2 separate regions of the Homo sapiens genome follow, and region 1 is linked to region 2. The links come from fine-mapping of genetic effects on gene expression. A gene starts in region 2. The other region holds a variant in brackets. All regions are shown on one strand. Distances are from middle to middle. Region 1 overlaps TMED7-TICAM2 (TMED7-TICAM2 readthrough). Region 2 holds the start of TICAM2 (TIR domain containing adaptor molecule 2).

The links.
Region 1: its variant is fine-mapped to the expression of TICAM2 in whole blood (TOPMed, PIP above 0.99). The same link has a PIP of 0.9 or more in blood mononuclear cells and lung.

What each region holds. Positions count from the first base shown.
Region 1 is chr5:115,572,847-115,583,591 of GRCh38, reverse strand. TMED7-TICAM2 (TMED7-TICAM2 readthrough) reads left to right here. Exons shown (of 4, transcript NM_001164469.4): 4 at 2,277-5,096. The coding sequence ends at 2,277. TICAM2 (TIR domain containing adaptor molecule 2) reads left to right here. Exons shown (of 2, transcript NM_021649.7): 2 at 2,277-5,096. The coding sequence starts at 2,336. The coding sequence ends at 3,043. Among named protein-coding and RNA genes, the nearest start is that of TICAM2-AS1, 24 kb to the left of the region's middle. RefSeq lists enhancers at 8,137-8,206, 8,237-8,286. The variant A/C (reference allele first, on the strand shown) is at 4,860.
Region 2 is chr5:115,597,505-115,608,249 of GRCh38, reverse strand. TICAM2 (TIR domain containing adaptor molecule 2) reads left to right here and starts at 5,771. Exons shown (of 2, transcript NM_021649.7): 1 at 5,771-6,153. The region is part of intron 3 of TMED7-TICAM2 (TMED7-TICAM2 readthrough); the gene reads left to right. TICAM2-AS1 (TICAM2 antisense RNA 1) reads right to left here and starts at 6,095. Exons shown (of 3, transcript NR_109875.1): 1 at 5,790-6,095; 2 at 5,094-5,204. RefSeq lists a silencer at 5,780-6,279 and enhancers at 5,899-6,421, 6,370-6,449.

The DNA of each region.
Region 1 (10,745 bases), 25 kb after region 2:
TCCCTCCAGATTAGAAGATGATGGTAAAGTTTTATAGACATTGCCACTAGTTTTTTTCTCTCGGTCTGATTAGGTGGGTGACACTGCTTGGAAGTTGGAACACATCATAGATTTCTGAAGTCTTTTGCTCTTTTTTGCTAACTGGTATTTAAGAAAAATAAGTCGAAGTTGTAATTCTTTGTTTTTATTTTAAAAGATTTTGTGATCTGCCTTGACACACTATCTTACCCTAGAAGTTTTTCATATTCTTTATAAATAGCTGTTATATTCCTTCAAAGCACTTGTCTTACCGGCTAGTGACTAAGATAATGGTGTTGAATTCAGTGATAAGTGTAGATCATTTTAATTGACAGTAAATAGATGCCTCTGGATGGTTTAACTATTGTTTTCTCATTCAGGGGAAACTTCTTTCTGCAACTTTGCATAGCAAAACCCTTTTTTTTTACGATGCAGTAACAAAAGTCAGCAGTGAATCCTAATCAATGAAGAGAGTCCAAATTAATTTGGTTTTATTATTTTGGATGGATATATGTCACATTTTAGAGTTATTATGCCTTAGAATACCTCTTGGTAACTAGCACAATATACCGTGGAGCGAGAACCTAAAGTACAGACAGAGTGAATGACGGAGTGGTCAGCAGTTTCCTCACTAGTCAGAGGCAGCTGCAAACATTTTTACTCACATACATTGAATGAAATTCTCTGTTTTTTTCCTTGGTTTTTGTTCCCATGACAGTTTTCACCACTTTTGTTGAACAGTTTCTTCTAAACCTGAATTATGTAGGCATATGTAGCCATGTTACTTATGTTGTTATGAATGTTATAATTTCTTCTTGAGGTATGGCCTTTGCCCATAAAGAACAAGTAGAAATGCTCTGGAATATAGTCTGTGGCTCACATTTGAAAGTATGAAACCTGTATTTATATATTCTAAATGTTCTGTCTTTTAATAAAAGAATTCCCCTTGAAACTGCCTGTCTGGGGGATTTTATTAGGAATATTGCCAATGTTTTCTGAAGACTTATTTAAATTAGATTCACATGGTATACTTTTCTTTCACAGTTGATCTAGTTCTTCCACTCTGAATTTAGAATTTTTTTAAATAAAAGAATGAGTCTAGGCCAGACGTGGTAGCTCATACCTGTAATCCCAGAGCTTTGAGAGGCTGAGGCGGGAGGATTGCTTGAGCCCAGGAGTTCGAGACCAGCCTGGGCAACATATGAAACCCCATCTCTACCAAAAAAAAAAAAAAACCAAAAAAAAAAAAAATTAGCCAGGTGTGTGGCATGTACCTGTAGTCCCAGCTACTCCAGAAGCTGAGGTGGGAGTATGGCTTGAGCCTGAGAGGCAGAGATTGCAGTGAGTTGAGATCACACCACTGCACTCCATCCTGGGCAACAGAGCCAGACCTTGTCTCAAAAAATAAATAAATAAATAAATGAATAAATAAATAACAACAAAAACAAGAATGAATCTAGACTATAATCATTCTTTGTTGATTTCACTGGAGAAAGTCTCAAGTCTTTGTTTCTAGAGTTCATTTCCAAACTGAGATGTTAATTTTTCCTTAGGTGAATAAATATATTTTCTTCAGTAGTTACAGGATTCGTTGGAAAAAGATATTTCTTACTTTTCACACACTCTTATTATAATTTATTCTCCATTAGATTCACCATCACCACAATGCCTGACTCCAGACAAACAAAAAAAAGCTCCGAACCAGTAAATCCTGGACATCATTTCACTTGACATTTCAGATCTTCTGTTTATGCTGTCAGTAGAGATGCTGCCAGTCATTGTTAGGATATTTGTGTTCTATTTTGTTTGTGCTTGATACAGAAATATATTTATGCTTAATTGAATATTCAGTTTCTTTATATTTTCCTGTTTCTAGTCTACATGGTAATTTGATAATGGAGAAATTAGATTTAAACTGCATGAAAAGATAAAGCGGTATGGTACCTATCACAAAAATACCAACGTAATTTATTTCAATCTGGAGGTTTGTAGTGCTAATATAACACCATTTACATTTTCCGAATGTCTCCTATTATATTAAACTGGACCCTTTATTTAATGTTCCCTTCGCTGCCTGTGATAGCCCTTGTAAAGCTCACAAAAGATTAGTAGTTTAGCTTCCCAATTATCTGTTTGTCGTTTATGTATTTGGATCTGTCTATTATAATCTTTTTGAGCTTTTCAGTTTGAATGAAAGTTTCCATTTTTAATGTTTTGATTAAATTTATAATATTCTTCTGTTTTGTTACTTCTTTTAGATTGAAAAGAAATGCTGAGAAATACATAAAGTTTTCCTCTTCTGCCTTGGATATTTATAATGGGTATCGGGAAGTCTAAAATAAATTCCTGCCCTCTTTCTCTCTCTTGGGGTAAAAGGCACAGTGTGGATACAAGTCCAGGATATCATGAGTCAGATTCCAAGAAGTCTGAAGATCTATCCTTGTGTAATGTTGCTGAGCACAGCAATACAACAGAGGGGCCAACAGGAAAGCAGGAGGGAGCTCAGAGCGTGGAAGAGATGTTTGAAGAAGAAGCTGAAGAAGAGGTGTTCCTCAAATTTGTGATATTGCATGCAGAAGATGACACAGATGAAGCCCTCAGAGTCCAGAATCTGCTACAAGATGACTTTGGTATCAAACCCGGAATAATCTTTGCTGAGATGCCATGTGGCAGACAGCATTTACAGAATTTAGATGATGCTGTAAATGGGTCTGCATGGACAATCTTATTACTGACTGAAAACTTTTTAAGAGATACTTGGTGTAATTTCCAGTTCTATACGTCCCTAATGAACTCCGTTAACAGGCAGCATAAATACAACTCTGTTATACCCATGCGGCCCCTGAACAATCCCCTTCCCCGAGAAAGGACTCCCTTTGCCCTCCAAACCATCAATGCCTTAGAGGAAGAAAGTCGTGGATTTCCTACACAAGTAGAAAGAATTTTTCAGGAGTCTGTGTATAAGACACAACAAACTATATGGAAAGAGACAAGAAATATGGTACAAAGACAATTTATTGCCTGAGATGAAACATATAACATGTGGCTGGCTCTTGTTTTGTAAACCAAATGATTAATCTTCACTTGAGAAAGCAGTTTCTAGGAAATGTTTAAATAAAAGAGAGTCTTCACCTTAAAGAAACCTATGGAGCACAAGAAAGATAAATTTCTGCAGGACAGCCTATAAAATTGTGGTACTTTTTGATGTTTCAGTAAACTTGACATTGTCAGAGTTTCAAGGACTTTTCTTTCACAATTTTCCTAGTTCATGGATATGAAAAAGGAATTCTCAATCCATATTCCTTGTATTGAACCTTGAACAAAAACTTGTATGACAGACATTTTTAAAAATGTGACAACACTTTTATTCTCTGAATTTTGATCTCAAAGGACACAGAAAAAAAATGGCCCCAGGAGATCTGATCACACTTCCTCCTGAGGCACCTCTCATGGATGTTGCAATAAGCATTCGGGTACTATCACCCAGAAATATGAATTGCCAGAATAGAACATTTAGCATGTTAAGCGTTGATGCATATAAAATCAGAAATAGATGTGAGAATGGTGGAACTTTTTAAAAGAACCCAGTCAAATGTATTTTCTGCTGAAATCTGCATATTTGGAGGCATTTCCCACCACCGATTCACAGCCCATTTGATAGTGTGGTAGTTAGGGACTTCGTGGAGTGGTGTTCAGACGTCCCCTGGGGCTTAAATCTCTTCATATTAGTCATCATTTGTAACTATGGCTTTATTTGCAGAGCTTCTAAAAGGCGTATAACTGTGTGAGTGGCCAGATATTCACTTTTTAAATCAAAAACCTCTCTTATGGAAGCTTTAAAAGTTTCCGTCACACACAATTCTCTTCTCAGGAAGTATTTCTCATTTAGGTCTTCAAAGTAGCCTGACTGTGTGCATGTGTGTGTGTGATAGGTTATTTATAAAGACTTTGGATAGAAGGAGATGTATTTTATTACCTCCTATTCTAGAGCCCCATGCTCCTAACAAGCCAGAGAGGCCCCAAACAGGATTGTTTCTTTCCTCCACAGCCCTTCTGCCCATCTGAGATTGAGGGAGCATCGTCCACTTGAGATCAGGGATGGGGTGGAGAATGGGTCATGTCATGTAATGAGAAAAGCCCTCTTCGGGATCATGAGACTTGGTTCTAGTCCAATTTCTGCCACTGAGGATGAATGTAACTGTGGGCAAACTATTTACCCTCCTTTATCTGTGAAATGAAAGGGTTGAATTGATGGATCTCTAAAGGCTTTTGTCCTCTATGAGGATGTGAAAAACTAGGGACCACAAAAGGGAACAAGCAAAAAAGTTTGGATTCGATAAAGTGATATGTAATAGTTGCAGAAGGCTTTATATATGCTTATAATGAAAAGATATTTTTTGTATATTGACAGCATAATTTATTTTTAATGCTGTCATTACACTTAAAGTCACAGGAAAAAAATATACATGCTTACTCAGGCTTTCTTAAAAATAAATTTTTATAGAGATCCTTGAGTAAAGACATTTTGCTTAATTTCTTTTTTCTTATTCCCCACTTGTATATCCCCTACCAGTACCGGGATCTGCACACATCTTTTTGCAGTTACCTCTTCATAGCCATGAACCAAAACGTTCTATGAGGAGCATGCAAGTAAGTCAAGCCTCCTATTCTGTTAGTACTTATTAGAGGAGGAGATGGTTTTCATTGCATAGTGACATTTTCTTAGCCTTAACGTTCTGATAGTAGCTTACTACTCACTTCTCTTTTTCAGTTTTCATAATAAGTATTCATTTTTTTGCCATAATGCTTCCTGTAAAGCCAATTTTATATACTAATAAAAC[A/C]TGAACTGCCCACTCTTCATGCCTGCCAAACTTGGGGCAATTGATGCTAAATGGTATTTTTAAAATAAATGTTTTTATTCTTTACTCTTGACTAAACTTGTTTATTTTCAACTCCAATGAAGATTGTGGAAGAGTGTTTTGAAATGAAGCATCGATTTGTACTTCATAGAGCACCAGACACAATGTCTCACCCAATTTGGAGTTCCATATTTTTTTTATGATAAAGAAAAATGTTGGCCGGGCGCGGTGGCTCACGCCTGTAATCCCAGCACTTTGGGAGGCCGAGGCGGGCGGATCACGAGGTCAGGAGATCGAGACCATCCCGGCTAAAAACGGTGAAACCCCGTCTCTACTAAAAATACAAAAATTAGCCGGGCGTAGTGGCGGGCGCCTGTAGTCCCAGCTACTTGGGAGGCTGAGGCAGGAGAATGGCGTGAACCCGGGAGGCGGAGCTTGCAGTGAGCCGAGATCCCGCCACTGCACTCCAGCCTGGGCGACAGAGCGAGACTCCGTCTCAAAAAAAAAAAAAAAAAAAAATGTTAAGTGCTGAATTATTATATATGTTGAAATTATCAATTGTAACAAAATAGCTAAACTGAGGATGAAAACAGGTAAAGGTGTGGGCTTTGTCATGTTTGTTGTGTACATATGTGCGTGTGCACACACCCATACACACATGTACATATCTAGGTACATACACATATCAGGAAATATGGGAAATTTTGCACTATGCTGGGGAGCTTTCATTTTGAGTACTCTGTGGGCCTTATTGCCCACCCTGGAGCTTTACAGGGGAGAACCCGAGTTGAGCCTCATGTATCAGTTAGGAAAACCCCACGCCACGTGGCCTAAACCATAAGAAAAAAATATTATCCGACTTAACAAGAGGTCCGCCAAGGTACAGGGGCTCAAATGTGTCATTAAAATCCCAGTCATATACTGAAATATTATTCAGTTCTAAAAAGGAATGAAATTCTGATACATACCATAACATGGGTGAACCTTGAAAACATTATGCTAAGTAAAATAAGCCAGATACAAAAGGACAAATATTATAGGATTCCACTTATATAAGGTAAATTCACAGAGACAGAAAGAATAGAGGTTACCAGGGGCTGAGGGCAGGGAGGAATATGGAGCTATTGTTTAATGGGTACAGAGTTTCTGTTTGGGGTTGTTGAAAACGTTCTGGAAATGGGTAATGGTGATGACACACAACATTGCGAAATGTACTTAATACCACTGAATTGTACACTTAAATATGGCTAAAATGATAGATTTTATGTTATATATATTTTACCACAATACAAGTTGAATATCCCTTATCCAAAATGCTTGGGACCAGAAGTGTTTTGGATTTTGGATTTTCATATTAGAGATGCTCAACTTGTAATTAAAAAAAAAAAGAAAAGGTAAAAAAACAAACCCAGGTTCTTTCCATCTTTTTGCTCTTCCATTCTCAGTGTTTCGGTTGAGCTCCCTTCCAAGGTGTAGCCTGGCTGCTCCAGTGTCCGACACTGTATACAGACATGACAGTGTCCAGCCTAATAAGATGATAGGAGTGGTCCACCCATATGGAAAAAATAATTCATCACTGCATTATTGAAAATTGTTGATACCCAGTAATGATAAAGAGCCATCTGACTCCCAGCTGGTTCCATTATTTCAAAATTCTCCCTACCCCTACCCTGAGTGGACACCTCCTAGCCTCCCTGCATCCAAACATCTTCCAACACCGTTTCTGAGTCAGACTACCTGGATTTGAATTCCACCTCTGTCCTCTGTAAGTGATGTTCTTAAAAAGACACTTAATTTTTTTGAGTTTTAATGTCCTCATCTAAAAATAAAGATCATAAATACCTCCCTGAAAGGTCATTTTGAGGATTTAATGAGCTAGTGCCTCACATATAGCTACCATATCTATGCTACTAGAACTATTTTTTGTTGCCTACACACATTCAATATGCAGCATGGGTTGGCGGGCAGGACACATATGCATTTTTACATACCCACAATCCTATCCTTGGAAACCTCGCAACTTGTAGGGAATAGATTTTAAACAAAGACAAAGGAAGATGCCAGGCCTTGTTCCCATGTGCAGTACAGCCCCCAGTCAGGCACTGAAAAGCAGAGGAGCCCCCTTGATCAGCAAGAGATGTGTGAGCTGTTAATGATGAGTATGAGTGCGGAGGAAGCTGGTGGCATGAAGGATGCAAGAGCATGGTGCCATGATTCTAACAAGTAGAAAGTTGAGCCATAAACTAGAAAAGCAGGAAAATGGAGTCTAGGAGTGCCAGCTTTGAAGTCAGTTAGGAGGAAGAATGGCTCAGACCTGGATGCCTTCAGTGGAGTTTTGTTGCTCCTTACACTTAAAAATGGTGGATCAACTTTGTGTTCATTTGATTATGGAGGGCAGAGGGTGTAATCCGTTTAATTTAGCTCTTTTCTGGGGCTTAGCAACTCCCAGATAATTTTGCCTCATTTGGGAATAGGCTGTATGAGTTTAGTTATACTATTCCCCTTGGGTTGGGTGGAGAAGGGAGTAAGAGTATCACTAGTCTACTCTGCTCCTTTCTTTCCTGACTAACTTAAGTTCTGCCTTGAATTCAACAAGCTGTTTGCTGGGGTTAACGCTTTCCAGCACAAGTCAGGGATGTTTTCCGCTTCAGTCCCTCATCCTTCAATTTTGCAGATCCTAATGCATTGGTTGTCAAAACCACTTCACTGCATAGAAGGTAACACCACTAGTAACAGAAATAACTTCCCTTGGCCCTCTCATTTGCAACAGCTCATTCCTAAGGCCCAATCCCAGTTCCTGATGGTGGATGTTGTTCCAGCCTGGAAAGCTTAATCACTTCCTCTCCAGTAACGAATAAATAGACTAGATTTCACTGAGTCATCTGTCTGCCCAGCAAAGGACCCTGCAAAAAAGAGATCAAAGTGGTTTTCACAGTCTTGTTGCAAAGGAAATCTGAGTTGGGGCCCAAGTATTCAAAGGGTGTAGAGTGGCTCAATATTAGTATCTAATTCAGGAGAATCATTTCAGTGCAGGCAAAGGATTTCAGGTCCTTTATCTGTACATTTTGCAGGTAAAAAACCTCAGTGCAGGTAAAGAAACCACATGCCATGCTGTGGAGTCAGGCTATTCCCAACTGTAGAGAAAGTCCATTGATCCATGAGTGTGGTGGGGCTGGCCCCAGGGCTAGTGAGAAGCTGTTGCCATGGCTGCATTGCTGGTAAGGTGGGATTCCGTGTGTTTGCCCTGAGCAATCTGCGCTGCCTCTGTGACTTTCCTCCTCTTCTCAGTCTTACACCGCCTGGTCTTAGGTCATCTGCTAAGCTGTCACAGAAAGTGACGTACCCTCCACACCTGTGGATGGTCTGAAGGGCAAGGAGGAAATTTCAGAAAGCTGTCAGGCACTTGATGAAATGAAACCACAGCATCTGGAAGTTGATGTCCTTAAGCCAATGACCAGAAGGAATGAACCAGAGAACTGATGTTGTTGTCCATGGACCTGATGTTTCTTATGAGATTCCAAGTAGAAAAATTTATTAGATTTTGAACACTTAACGGCTGGATAAGGACAACTTTCTTATATATATATATATATATATATATATATATATATATATATATATATATATATATGTCATATGTGGCAATACTCTTGTCAATTAACATATTAAGTTTGGATTGAGGTAAGTAATACTTGAAAGTGCCATTAATTAATAACTCAGAGCATGAAAATTATTTGATTAAAAGCTCAATGAGGCTGGGTGTGGTGGCTCATGCCTGTAATCCCAGCACTTTGGGAGGCCAAGGTGGGTGGATCACGAGGTCAGTAGTTCAAGACCAGCCTGGCCAAGACGGTGAAACCCCATCTCTACTGAAAATACAAAAATTAGTCAGGCGTGGTGGCAGGTGCTTGTAATCCCAGCTACTCAGGAGACTGAGGCAGGAGAATTGCTTGAACCTGGGCAGCAGGGGTCGCAGTGAGCCTAGATCTGGCCACTGCACTCCAGCCTAGGCGATACAGTGAGACTCTGTCTCAAAAAAAAAAAAAAAAAAAAGCTCAACGAATTAACTTGTGGAAAAAAAGAAAGACAATTGCTCTTCTCTCTTCTCCTTTGCCAATGAACCTGCTCTCACAACTGTTTACTCCAACATCTATACTCCTTCACAGTTGCCTTCCTTTCTGTCATGAGCAAGAATTGTTCTGGGGAAATCACTTCTTTAGTTAGTTTAACACACTTCTATTTCTCTTCAGATAGAGTGAGTTCTGAGTCATTTTCACTCTGAGGTGAATAATTAGAAATGCTTTTATTAGCAAGTAACAGGAACCTGCATTTAAGCAGTTTCCAAATCTAATTAGAAATGTTGCTTTCAGCTACCTACTCAAACTACAGGTTTAAATCAAGAAAATTGTTTTTTTCTATTATTTGTAGGGGACCTCTACAAACTAGCTCCTTCCGGAGGTTTTCCATGTATATATTGGACAGGACACATAACAAGCTTTACAGATTTCTGTATATTTTATGTGTATTTATAAATAATGCTATCACATTAAAATGTTCTAAAATTAGATTGCAGTGCTGGTTGCACAACTCTGCACATATACTAAAAACTGTTGAGTTGTATACTTGAAATGGGTAAATTTTATGGTATGTAAAATATATCTCAATAAAGAACCTAAAAAATACTCTCGAGCAAAGATGACAATAAAATGCTACAGTGATTTGGAAACATGATTTAGCAATGACTAGTAATGTTGAAGATGGGCATATCTTATGAATCTAGCAATTCTACCTCTGGATTTGTATCCCAAAGAAACTCTCTCACAGGTACCCAAAGAAGCACGAGTGAGAAGGATGCCTATGCAGCATTCTTTGTAATAGGTAAATAATGGGAAACAATCTAAATGTCCATCAGTAGGAGGATGCAGGAATACATTATGGCAGGTTCATGAAATCAATACTATAGGGCATTAAAAATAACTAGGAAACCTACATATGTGAATATGGGTAAATTTCTAAAATGTAATATGTGGGAGAAGTAAATTATAGAATAATATGGATAATTTGATAACATTTATATAAAGTTTTAAAACGTACAAGACAGCTCTGTATTTTTAATGGGTACTTACATTGGTGATGGTATATTATTTTCCATGCTCTCCTGTATGTTTGAAAAAGTTCATAATTATTTTTTAAATTAGCATTCACTTGTAGTCATGTTAAGTGCTGTAGATGTTTCCTACACGTGCAATGATTTGAGGAACTAAAAAAAGATGAAGACTGTCAATGGGTAGAGAAATATATGCTTGTAATAATACGTTTCATTTTTTATCACCTACTGTGTTTGGCACTTAACTTACATTATCTCCAGTGTTCCCCAGATTCCTACAAGGTTAGTCATACAGTGTCCAATACTGGGCCAAGAAACAGATGCTGGAAATGTAATATACCCAAGATCACAGGCTGGTAGAGGATGGAGTCATTGAAATATTCAGTGGTCTGGCTCCAAAGCCTTGTGGGTCTTAGGCTTCATAATTGTGCTTCTCAATGTACCTGTCTGCTTTTCTCATGGTGGAGAAATTAGGAGAGGCCAGTAGTACAAAGAGAAAACCATAACAAGTTCATGGTGAGGTTGCCATAATTCTAGTCTTCTTTGCCTAGTATGCACAACTCATGACAGAGAGTCTCAGGAACTATGCGTCCTAATTCCACTGTGCTGCTGTGGAGCTAACTTTTCTAATCTTCACTTTCCTCCAGAAGACTCAAAGTATTGCAGTAGCTGATTTCTAACATTTTCTAGCTGTGTGATTTTTTTCTGAGCTCTAAAAACTAAGGTCTCTGCCCATTCTAAAATGCTTCCCTTCTTTTGTT
Region 2 (10,745 bases):
AAAACTTAGTTCCTTGAAGCTGTAGAACTGAGGTCCTCAGCTACTTAGGGCTGCTCTTTTATATAAGCAGTGTAACGTGACATGCCTTTTTAAGGTCAGCAGAACTTCTGACTAGAATCTGTTTCAGAGAAGGCCAGAAAGAGTTCACTTGGTTAGGTCAGAGTCACCTGGGATAGTCTCCCTTTTGATTAAGTCAGAGTCAACTAAATAGGCACCTTAATTGCATCTGCAAAATCCTTTCACTTTTGCCATATTCTCTTACTAAATGTAACAGGCGTTGTCCACACAAAGGTATGGATATGGGGCTTGGAAAGGATTTCAGGAACCATCTTAGAATTCTGCCTACTACTAACTCCATTCTACAAGTCTCAATATCTAGCATTTTAGTTATTCACTAACTGCAAAGTTTTTTATTTCATTATCATTACTACTTTGATCCATAGATACTATTTGGAACTATAATTTCCAAACATGAATATTTAAGTTTTCCTTTATTGTTGATTTTTAACATAATTGAATTGTGATCAGATGATATATTCTCTATATGATTTAAATTCTTTGAAATGTGTTAACAGTTGCTTTATGACATAATAAGTGGCTGGTTTTTATAAATTTTAGGATGCTTGAAAAGAGTTCTACAGTTATTTATGTTCATTAATCATTTTAGTCATGTTCATTAATTTTCAAGTCTTCAGTATCCTTAGTGATGATTTTTTTGTTTTTGGTATATATCTCTTGATTACTAAGAGAATTGTGTTAAAATGTAGCTAGCATGATTTTAGATGTGTTTGTGTGATTCTTTCAATTTCTCTCTTTTTCTATTTTGTATTGGGATACAAATGTATAATTGTTATATTTTCCAGGTTAATTGAAAGAAGCTTTATCATTACAAAATTATCTTTATTTCCACTAATAAATTTTGCCTTAAAATTAATTTTATTTGATATTAATGTAGCTATACCAGCTTTCGTTTGGCTAGCACTTGTGTCGTATATCATTTTCCACAGTTTTACTTTCAGTCTTTGTGTATATTTAGTTTTTAGAGGTGTCTCGTTTATATCATATTGTTGTTACTATTAGTATGTGTCCTATCTGTTCTATGTTCCTTTTTTTCTACTTTTTTTTTGATAGTTTTGTTTTTGTTACTCCTTTTTTTCTTCTACCTATCAGATGGGATGTTGTATATATTTCTGTTCATGGTTGTTCTAGAAATTTCATTATGCATCTCTGACTTATCAACGCCTAAACTCGCCCAGACTTCTGCGCAGTGCAGTAGCCTTAGAACACTTTAATCCCATTTACTTTCCTCCCAGCTTATATATGTGGTTGTCACATATGTTGTATCTCTTTAAATGTAAGTTATTACTGTTGTTTTATATAGTTAATATTGACTTAGATTTACCCACAAATTTGCCACCTTTCTTACTCTCCATTCCTTGCTGTGTCTTTGAGCTTCCATCTGGAGTAATTTTTCTTTTGCCTGAGTATATGTTTAGAATTTACTTTAGTGCAGGTCACCTGGTGGCACATTTACTTTGCTCTTGTTTTTTGAAATGTCGTTATTTTGCCTTCTTTTTGAAGGACTTTTTTTTTCTCCCTTGAAATGGATGGTTATCTGGAAAGGTAAAGATAACTTTCCCTTGTATTCTGACTTCCACTGTTACTGGGAAGAAGTCACCTGTCAGTCTTTTGCTCCATTTAGACTAATCCATTTTTTTTTCCTCTGGCTGCTTTCACGATTTTCTCTTTGTAATTATAATTTTTTTTTTTTGAGTTTCATTGTGTTGTATATACGTGAGGATTTTATTGTATTTTCCCACTTAGGCTTTGTTTGGCATCTTAGATCTGTGGGTTGATACATCAGTTCTGGAAAATTCTCAACCATCATTGATTTGTTCAAATTTTGTTTAGAATCTTACATCTATATCCATGAGCGATGTTGGTCTTTAGTTTTCTGTTTTTGTAATGTCTTTTGTCTGATTAGTATGATACTAATGCTGGCTTAATAGAATGATTTCAGAAGTATTCCCTCCTTTTGAATTTTTTTGAAGAGTATGTGTAGGATTGGTATCATTTCTTCCTTAAATGTTTTGGTAGAGTTCACCATTGAAGTCACCTGGACATGAAGTTTTCTTTTTCGGAACATTTTTCACTACACCTTAATTTCTTTGATAGATTTAGGGCTTTTAAAATAATCTGTTTCATCTTGACTGTTTGGCTTTTAAGGATTTTTTCCATTTCATATAAATTGTTGAATTTGCTGGCATAAAGTTGTTCATAATCTTTCCTTAGTAACCTTTTAATAACTGGAATGTCATGTCCCTCTCTCATTTCTAATATTGGTAATTTGCATCTGCTCTCTTTTTTCTTGACTTATCTGGCTAGAAGTTTATTGATTTTGAACGTCCTAGTAAACCATCTTTTGGTTTTATTTCTGGGGGAATAAAGTACCATAATCAAGCTTAGTAATCCTTCTTCTTACCTTCCTCCAGGATTTTGACTAGATGGGATTCTTTGTCTAATGAAGTGACCTAAACCTTCATTTCTACAGAATTGAGCCGTTGATAGGCCTGTCTTTACTGGGTTGCTGCAGTTTTCCACTGACTAGGACTGTTAGCACTAAGAGGCATTCCAGTGAATTTCCTCGTTTCCATATATAGCCTATATAGCCTTCTTGTTTCCATTGTAAAACAGAAACACAGTTTTCCTCTGATAACTGGAATTAGCTACCCTGGCCAGTCCATTGAGCTGCTTTTCTGTTACTTTAATGGCATGAGGAACCTCAAAAGGCCAGGGCCAGTCTCGGCTCCTAAATCATCAAAACATGATTATTTTTCCTGAAGGAAGTGTTCTACTCTTGGACTCTAGAATTTCTAAACCCACCAAGCCCAACATTTTGGGAATGGGAAGCAAAAATTATTCACGTAGATTCTTAGGTATACTATTGAACAGAAACACTCCTTCTACCCTTTGGCTCTGAGACCTGTGCATCCTGATAGTGGGGAGACAGCTCCATATATTGACTGCTTATTAAATTAATGTACCACATTCTATAGGACACCACCCTACCTTTTCATGATGTTGCCTCCCAGATATCTCTGTAACCGAGCTCTCATTTTGCCACTCAGCTGTTCTATCAAGCTAGTTACTTTAGGAGATAAGCATGTGTTAAAACCATTGAATTCACTTCCATTGCCATAAACTGTGTACCTGGTTGGAAGAAATGTTTTTGGGATTCCTATGCAATGGATAAAACCTTCAGAAATGTCAAGAATATTAGTGCCAGTGGAAACACTGCAGGCAGAGAATGCAGATTTATACCTTGAATGTGAATTATCTTTGTGAAGACAAAGTGCTACCTATTTCTTATGGAAATTGCCCAATGTAACCATCATGTTACCGGGTTGCCAGCAAGTCTCATTGACAGTAATGCCATATTAGGAACCCAGCCTTGGAAATGTAGTCACACTCCACGTTGTTGCCAGGTTGGGCATTCGGCAATGATAGTAGCCAAATAATGTAGGTAAGGAGAAGACCATACTATTGAACCTCTGTCACTGCTTTGATAGCCACTTGGTACATGGGCCCATTAACCAAGCCCTGGGTTGGCTGGAGAAAAAGACTGACATCTACCAGACAATTCATCTTGTTCCGCTTATTATTGAAAATCTTCTCCACCTGATGCATCCTGTTAGGCACTTATGGGGGATATGAATATCTTCACATGCCCTCACCACTCCAAGAGGGTTATCTGTAAGTCTCACGGACAGATCTTTTACAAATTTTCCATTTTGTTCTTTCCAAGAACCTAAAAGCTGGACAATCCATTAGACACTGCCTGTAAGTCAGTATATTTATCAGTTTGTCATGTCGTCCCCTCCTTTCTTGAATGTGAATAACCAGGTATGTAGCTAGAAATTGCCCACTAGGAAGATTCGCTGTCCCCATTAGCAATGCACGGATCTGAAATTGTCTCACTTCTTTACATATCTGTCTGTCTCCCAGATTAGACTATAAAATCTCCATGAGAACTAGGACTGTGTCTCCTGTTCGCACAATATCCCTAATGTCTAGCACATAGAATATATTCTAAACATATGTGGCGTAAGTGATTGATGCATTTTCTTGAACATTTGGAGAGAAAATGTTAAGCAATTAAACTTGTAACCAATTTAAGATTTTTTTTAGTACATGTGACTGTATTATGAAGAACAATGCAAAATTTGGAGCAATTTACAAGAAGATGGAACAGTTCAAGTAAATTTGCCCATGACACTAGTGACTTCAGGCTCTTTTATGTATGCAACCTAAGTGATGAATAGGGAAGTACGTGTTTATGGAATCTGTCATTGGTGGTATTTCAGTGGGAAAATGTGAAAAGCTCTGATTTTGAAGGGTTGCCAGAGAAAGAGGAACAGGCAGAGGAAACTGAAAGAAGAATTTTTTTTTTTTTTTTTTTTTTTTGAGACGGAGTCTCACTCTGTGGCCCAGGCTGGAGTGCAGTGGCGCGATCTCGGCTCACTGCAAGCTCCGCCTCCCGGGTTCAAGCCATTCTCCTGCCTCACCCTCCCAAGTAGCTGGGACTACAGGCAGCTGCCACCACTCCCGGCTAATTTTTTGTATTTTTTAGTAGAGACGGGGTTTCACCGTGTTAGCCAGGATGGTCTCGATCTCCTGACCTCGTGATTCACCCGCCTCGGCCTCCCAACAGGCCTGAAAGAATTTTAACAAGCAGGATGAGCATAAAGGCAAAGTGGGGTTGTCAACATCAAGGAAACAGAGTGTTGGGAAACAATGGTCGACTTTGTCAATCGCCAAAGAGACTCCCAGGAAAAATGAGGGCAACAAAAGTATCAGTTGGATTTAGGAGGCCACTGCTTACCCAAAGAGTTCAGGTAGAATTGTTGGGAGGTGCAGTGGTTGGAGAATCAACTCCGTGAATAATGAATTGTGTTGACACGGTACATAATACGGTATTTCTGACTACATTGGCGGCATTTCACTAAGTAATTACTACCTGAAGTGCCTACCTTCAGTAAGGCATCCTGTTGTTGGATGGGGAAAGAGAAGGAGGAAATAACTCTTAGCTTTACCTGTACTGTGCTTCTGAGACCCAGGTATGGACCTTCACTCCCAATTTACTATCCATGGTCTCATCCGATGTTCAGTAACTGGGTTCTCCTTTGGCAGGGAGTAGGGATTGCCTGAGAATTAAAAGGGGAGGGGAGATTTCTGAACTGGACCTCTTAGGTTATGACTAGATTGGGTGCCTGAGGCAGCAATGGGGCTTTATAAGGCTTCTTTACGCTTCATTTAACTAATTGCTTTTTTGTTCTCTCTTATTCAGTGGAGTTCCAATCTGTTCGGTTGTGGAGAACGAACCTGAGAAAAAGGATCTTTCGCAGGGTAGTTTTTGGGGGCAGAGGCTGATGTGCTGCACCCCCTAATCAGGGGTATGGTTGGCTGCAGTAGTCAAGTGAGAGGGCCGCAAAGGGAAAGGAAAAGTCGAGACTATCTTAGGGAACCAGGAGAGTCGCTGTACCTCTGAAAGATCTACGGTTTGTCTGGTCTGTAAGGAGCAAACACGGTGGAATTCCTTTCCAGATTTTTCTGGGCCTCGACCTCTGGCTTTTGGGGTACATGCCAAAAAAAAAAAAAAAAAAAAAAGCGCAGGGAGAGTCCACTAGCCTCGGTGACAGTTCCCCATTGCGGTTTCCCCTCCTCCACCCTTCTTTGCGAGCTCCTTCCCTCTGCAGAGAGTTATCCCGCCACATTAACCCCTGACTCACAGCTGGACCGCCCCGGCCCGCAGCGCCACGTCCCGGGTGGGGCCTGCCACGGCAAAGCAGCAGTCCGGCCTCGAGCGGCCCCTCGGGGGCGGCGGGGTGGGCGCCAACAGCAGTCAGGCCTGACAAGCGGCGACCTCCAAGGGTGAGGCCTCTGCGGGCCCCCGACTCACGCGCGTCCGGGCTCTGCAAGCGCGGTGGGGAGCAGGCTGCTGTGGTCGCGGGGACTGGGTTGCGGCGCGCCGCGTACGGGACGGCCCCAAACTCTCGACGCCCGGGGCAAGACGCCCACCCCCTGGGCGCTCTCGCTGGGCCAGAAAGGAAGACAGAAAAGCCGCGGGCTGACTGTGGTGGCGCTCGCCTGCAGGCAAGTACCGGGCGCTAGGGCGGGGGCCGCCGCCGGGGGCGCGGGGTGGGCTGGGGCCAGGCCGCCAGGGGCGCGGGGTGGTCTGGGGGCCAGGCCGCCTGCGCTACCTCCCCAGCCTACCCGACCCGACGGCGCGGGTGCTGGCGCTGTTGTCCCCAGCGGGGCGGGCAGGCCTTTCCGTCACTTGGCTTACTCTGAAGGGAAAATCCACACAGCTGTCTGCCTTTTTGTTTCATTTTGACTAGAAAACCCATTTTCGAAAAGACACCTCAGAACCATAAGCAAATAGCCCAGAGTCTTAAATGCTCTAAAGGCTCTGCATGAGCCCCTGCCAGGCACACAGAGCCAGTGCTGGAGGTTTTGGCATGGGTTTTCCTACTTGGCTTTTTGTGCAAAGCTAATTTGGATAAAAATAATTTGACTGGCAGCTGTGAGCTAGTTTTCAGTGTATTAGGACCTCTCCAGCTTTCCACGGTAGTAAACTTCTTAAAGAAAGTATTTTAAAATATTCTCATATTTATTATTATTTTTTAATTTATCCTTTTAATTTTGAAAAGCAAGGGTGGGAAAGGCTATATGATCTGGAGGTAAAAATACACCATTATATAGAGTTGAAGTGTCATCCCCTGAACCCACATTGCACGTCTACACAGGAGAAGAACTTGTCCTTCTCCAAGTGTTTAGTATTCCTTAGATTAGTGTTTTTCAAACAAGCCTGATGGTAAGACGCATTTGGGACTTTTGTTTAAAATGCATCCCCCCACCTCTGAAGGTTTAATTTGGTAAGCTTGATTTCCAGAATCTGTATTTCTATTTTTTTATTGTTTAATTTAATTTTATGTTCTGGGATACATGTGCAGGACTTGCAGGTTTGTTACATAGATAAACGTGTGCCATGGTGGTTTGCTGCACCTATCAGCCCATCAATCCTTACATTTTAATATTTTGAAGTAGTAGGATGGTTATAAATGGAGTTAAGCAACTCCACTTTATATCTCATTCAAATCAGAAAATAGATAAGCAGGTATAGAATATTGACACCTACATTTGAAGCAAAGTAAATGTGACATGTACGCCTTACCGTATGGAACTTGAAGTATAAACCATGTTTACACTGTTGAATCATGGGCATCTGTGTTGAGTCATTTGTTCCTTATGCTATTCTTAAAATGTATTCATTTAACAAATATCTGCTGTTAAATCTTCTGTCTTTAATCCCCCCTAGACCACACATCCCATTCTAGGTCCCGCTCCCCTACTTTGCTTCTTTTTATAACAAACAAAAATCCTCTTTGAAAGATTTAATCTAAGTCTCCATTTTCATTTTCCCTGTTTCTTCCTACCCCCTCTCATCTGAGGCTTTTTGTCCCCATTACCCCCTGCATGGTCCTGATGTTGCCAATGACTGTCTTGTGAAATCCAGTGTCTGTGCACAGTTCTCATCTTTCCTGACCCCTCAGTAACATTTGATCACTCCCTCCTCAATATTCTTTTTTCTTCACTAATGTTCTTCACTAATATTCTTTCTTCTTCACTTGGCTTCCAGGTCACCATATTCTGCATTTCATTCTGCTTCATTGTGTCTCCAGGCTTCCCCACCACTAAATCTTAGTATGCCACAGAGTTCATTTCTTGGCCATATTTTTCTAGCCATACTTTCCCCCAGGACAATTTGTATCCCAAGCCATATTCCTTGGCTATAAATAATATCTATCAGCTGATGACTTCCAAAATTTTATTCCTAGCTTTAGTTCGCTTCTGAGCTCCAGATGTATGTGTATGTCCAGCTGTTTACTCAGCATCTCCACTTGGAAGTCTGATAGGCATTTAAATTTAGTATGGACAGATAGAACTACTGATGCCAGATTCACCAAGTTCTCCCTCTGTTTCCCCTCAGCTCCCTCCCTTATCTCAATAAACAGCCTCAGTTACTGCCATTCAAGTAGGCCGGAATTCTAGGAATTTACTCTTGACTTCTCTTTTTAGGTCAGACTCCGCATCCAAGCATCCAACAAAATCTGTTGACTCTACCCAGATCTGCCCACCTCTCTCTCCCTCTCTAAGCTAAGCCACAGTCCTCTCCTACCTACATGATTGAGAAGTCTCTGCCTCTGCCCTTGCTCCTCTACAGTCTTTTCCAAATAGCAGTGATTTTTGTCATACATACTCAGAACTTTCATTTCCCTTCAAAACCTTCTGGTGGCTTCTTATCAGAATCACAAAAAAAAAGAAAGAAAAAAAAAAGAAAAGAAAAACAGGCTTACAATGGCTTTAAAGCCCTGTGTGATCTAGTCCCTGACTAGTTCTCTGAACTCATCTCCTGACTTCCCTCTCATCCACTCCACTGTAGTAACACTGATTGTGCTGCTGTTGCCTTTGCCTGCAGCTGGTGTCTGCTAGACCATTGCACACTGTACTCCCTCACTTCTCTGTTAGCATGCTGCCTCAGGGGTTACTGTGCTATTGCAGCAAGATCTCTTTTGCTGCTGGGCCTGTGCGGTAGGTTGCTATTAAATACTGAATGCTACTCTCTAGTATTCCATGAAGCTTATGGAACCTTTAAAACATTGTTGGTTGCTTGAGTTCCCTAATATTAAAAATGCACAACCATTTTTCTTTTGAGCCTAATTTTGATAAGATGGACAGTTTGCCTTTAAGTTCTATGTTTTTATAAAATCTCTTCCTGATTTGGAGATTTGCCCTTTACCATCAGTTTTCATTTTTAGATACAGAAAATGGAAGAAAAATATCCAGTTCACTAAAAAGAATATGTAATAATATTTGGTGGGGGGCAGTTACTTTGCCCCCCTCCCCCCACCAATAGGGGCAATAGGAAATAGGAAGCAATAATCTAACATTTGGAGACTCTTTGAATGGTACCAGCAGCAGGTAGTTTATGGGAAGAAGAAAAATAAAGACACTTGTTCAGAGAATAATATACAAGTTTCTAAGTTCTGCAGTGACTAAGCCAATGTCAGAGTTGTGAAGATTTTATAAGATATTATATAAATTGAACTTTTTTTTTTTTTTTTTTGAGACAAGGTCTTGCTATGTTGCCCAGGCTGGTCTTAAACTCACAGGCTCAAGCAATTTTCCCACCTCAACCTCCCAAATAGCTGGGCCTAGAGGCACATACCACTGCATCTGGCTCCAGTTCTCTTTTGAGGACTATGTAGAAATGAAAAACAATATTTTCATCTTTATGAAGAGGTGTAGCAACTAAAAGATTGTTTAATTTATAATCCTTATTTCTCATTTTAATCTCAAGGAACTGGTTCTGTTATCAGTAGCGTATGTACTATCACCCCTTCTTGTAAAAGAAAAGAAGAAAATTCCTTCTTATTTCAGAATTAGGATTTAAGATACTTTAATAAATATTTCCAATATAAGATTAAATTAAATTAAATAATAAGTAGATTTGGAATATCGAACAGAGAGAAGAGTAGGGGGGTTAAGCAGAAACTAGGAGTGAAGTTATTAATAGTATCAAAACACTTGCCATAAGCTTCTGTCTGTTGGCCAGAGCACTCATTAACGTGGAGCTTCCTAGCAACTGAGTGAAGAGATAGGGTCCACAAGATGAAAAAGCAGTGCCCAGGTGAAGATCGGATAGAAGCATTTTTTTAAACATTTACTTGCTCAAGGACCTGTTTTAGGTACGATGAAGATGAATGTTCTGTCCTTTGGTACTTAAGAAGAGTGTTGGAGAAGCCCTGTTTGGTTTAGAGTTAGCAAACCCATGCTCTTGGAATATTTGCATATAAATAAAAAACAGATGAAATAGAGCTAAACCTGGAGATAGGCTAAACTCATTTGGAACGTAGAGATAGAGCATGTAAGGAAGACACTTACCAAAGGTGTTGGAAAAGATATATATAAGGAAGATACTATTTAGATGGAAATCAAATCAACATAATTGACATAATTGTTGACAATTATTGACCTAATTGATATTTATAAAAATATAAAGCCTAGAAAATGAATTTTTATTTACTAAAAAACTATTTTTTCAGACTGTGTGATCATTGTTCAAAAGGTGAACATGTATGTGTATATATGTGTACATGTGAAGAACACGTGAGTTCTTCACATATATATGAAGGAATACATATATATACACATTTATATATTCTTATGCATATACCATTCACAGAGGATCAATGTTACCTTTTTGGTATTCACTTGGCCCATGAACAACATGGGTTTGTATTATGTGGGTCCCCTCATATGTGGATTTTCTCCAACAAAACATGGATCAAAAATGCGGTATTCCAGGATGCAAAACCCACACATACGGAGGGCTGACTTTTTGTATACGCAGGCTCTGCAGGCTGACTGTGGGACTTGAGTATTCTTGGATTTTGGTATATGCAGGGGTCCTGGAACCCCTGGAATCAGTCTTCCCTACCCTTAAGTATACCAAGAGACGACAGTACTTCTTTCTAATCTATTTTCTCTGCATTTTGTTTAACAAAGCTGAGATCATATTCTGTATACTATTTTACAGTCAGTTCCTTTTCTTTAATTACATTTCATTTTCGTGTCATGAGAAGCGTTTTTCTCATGTCATTAAAATTGTTCATAACATTCAT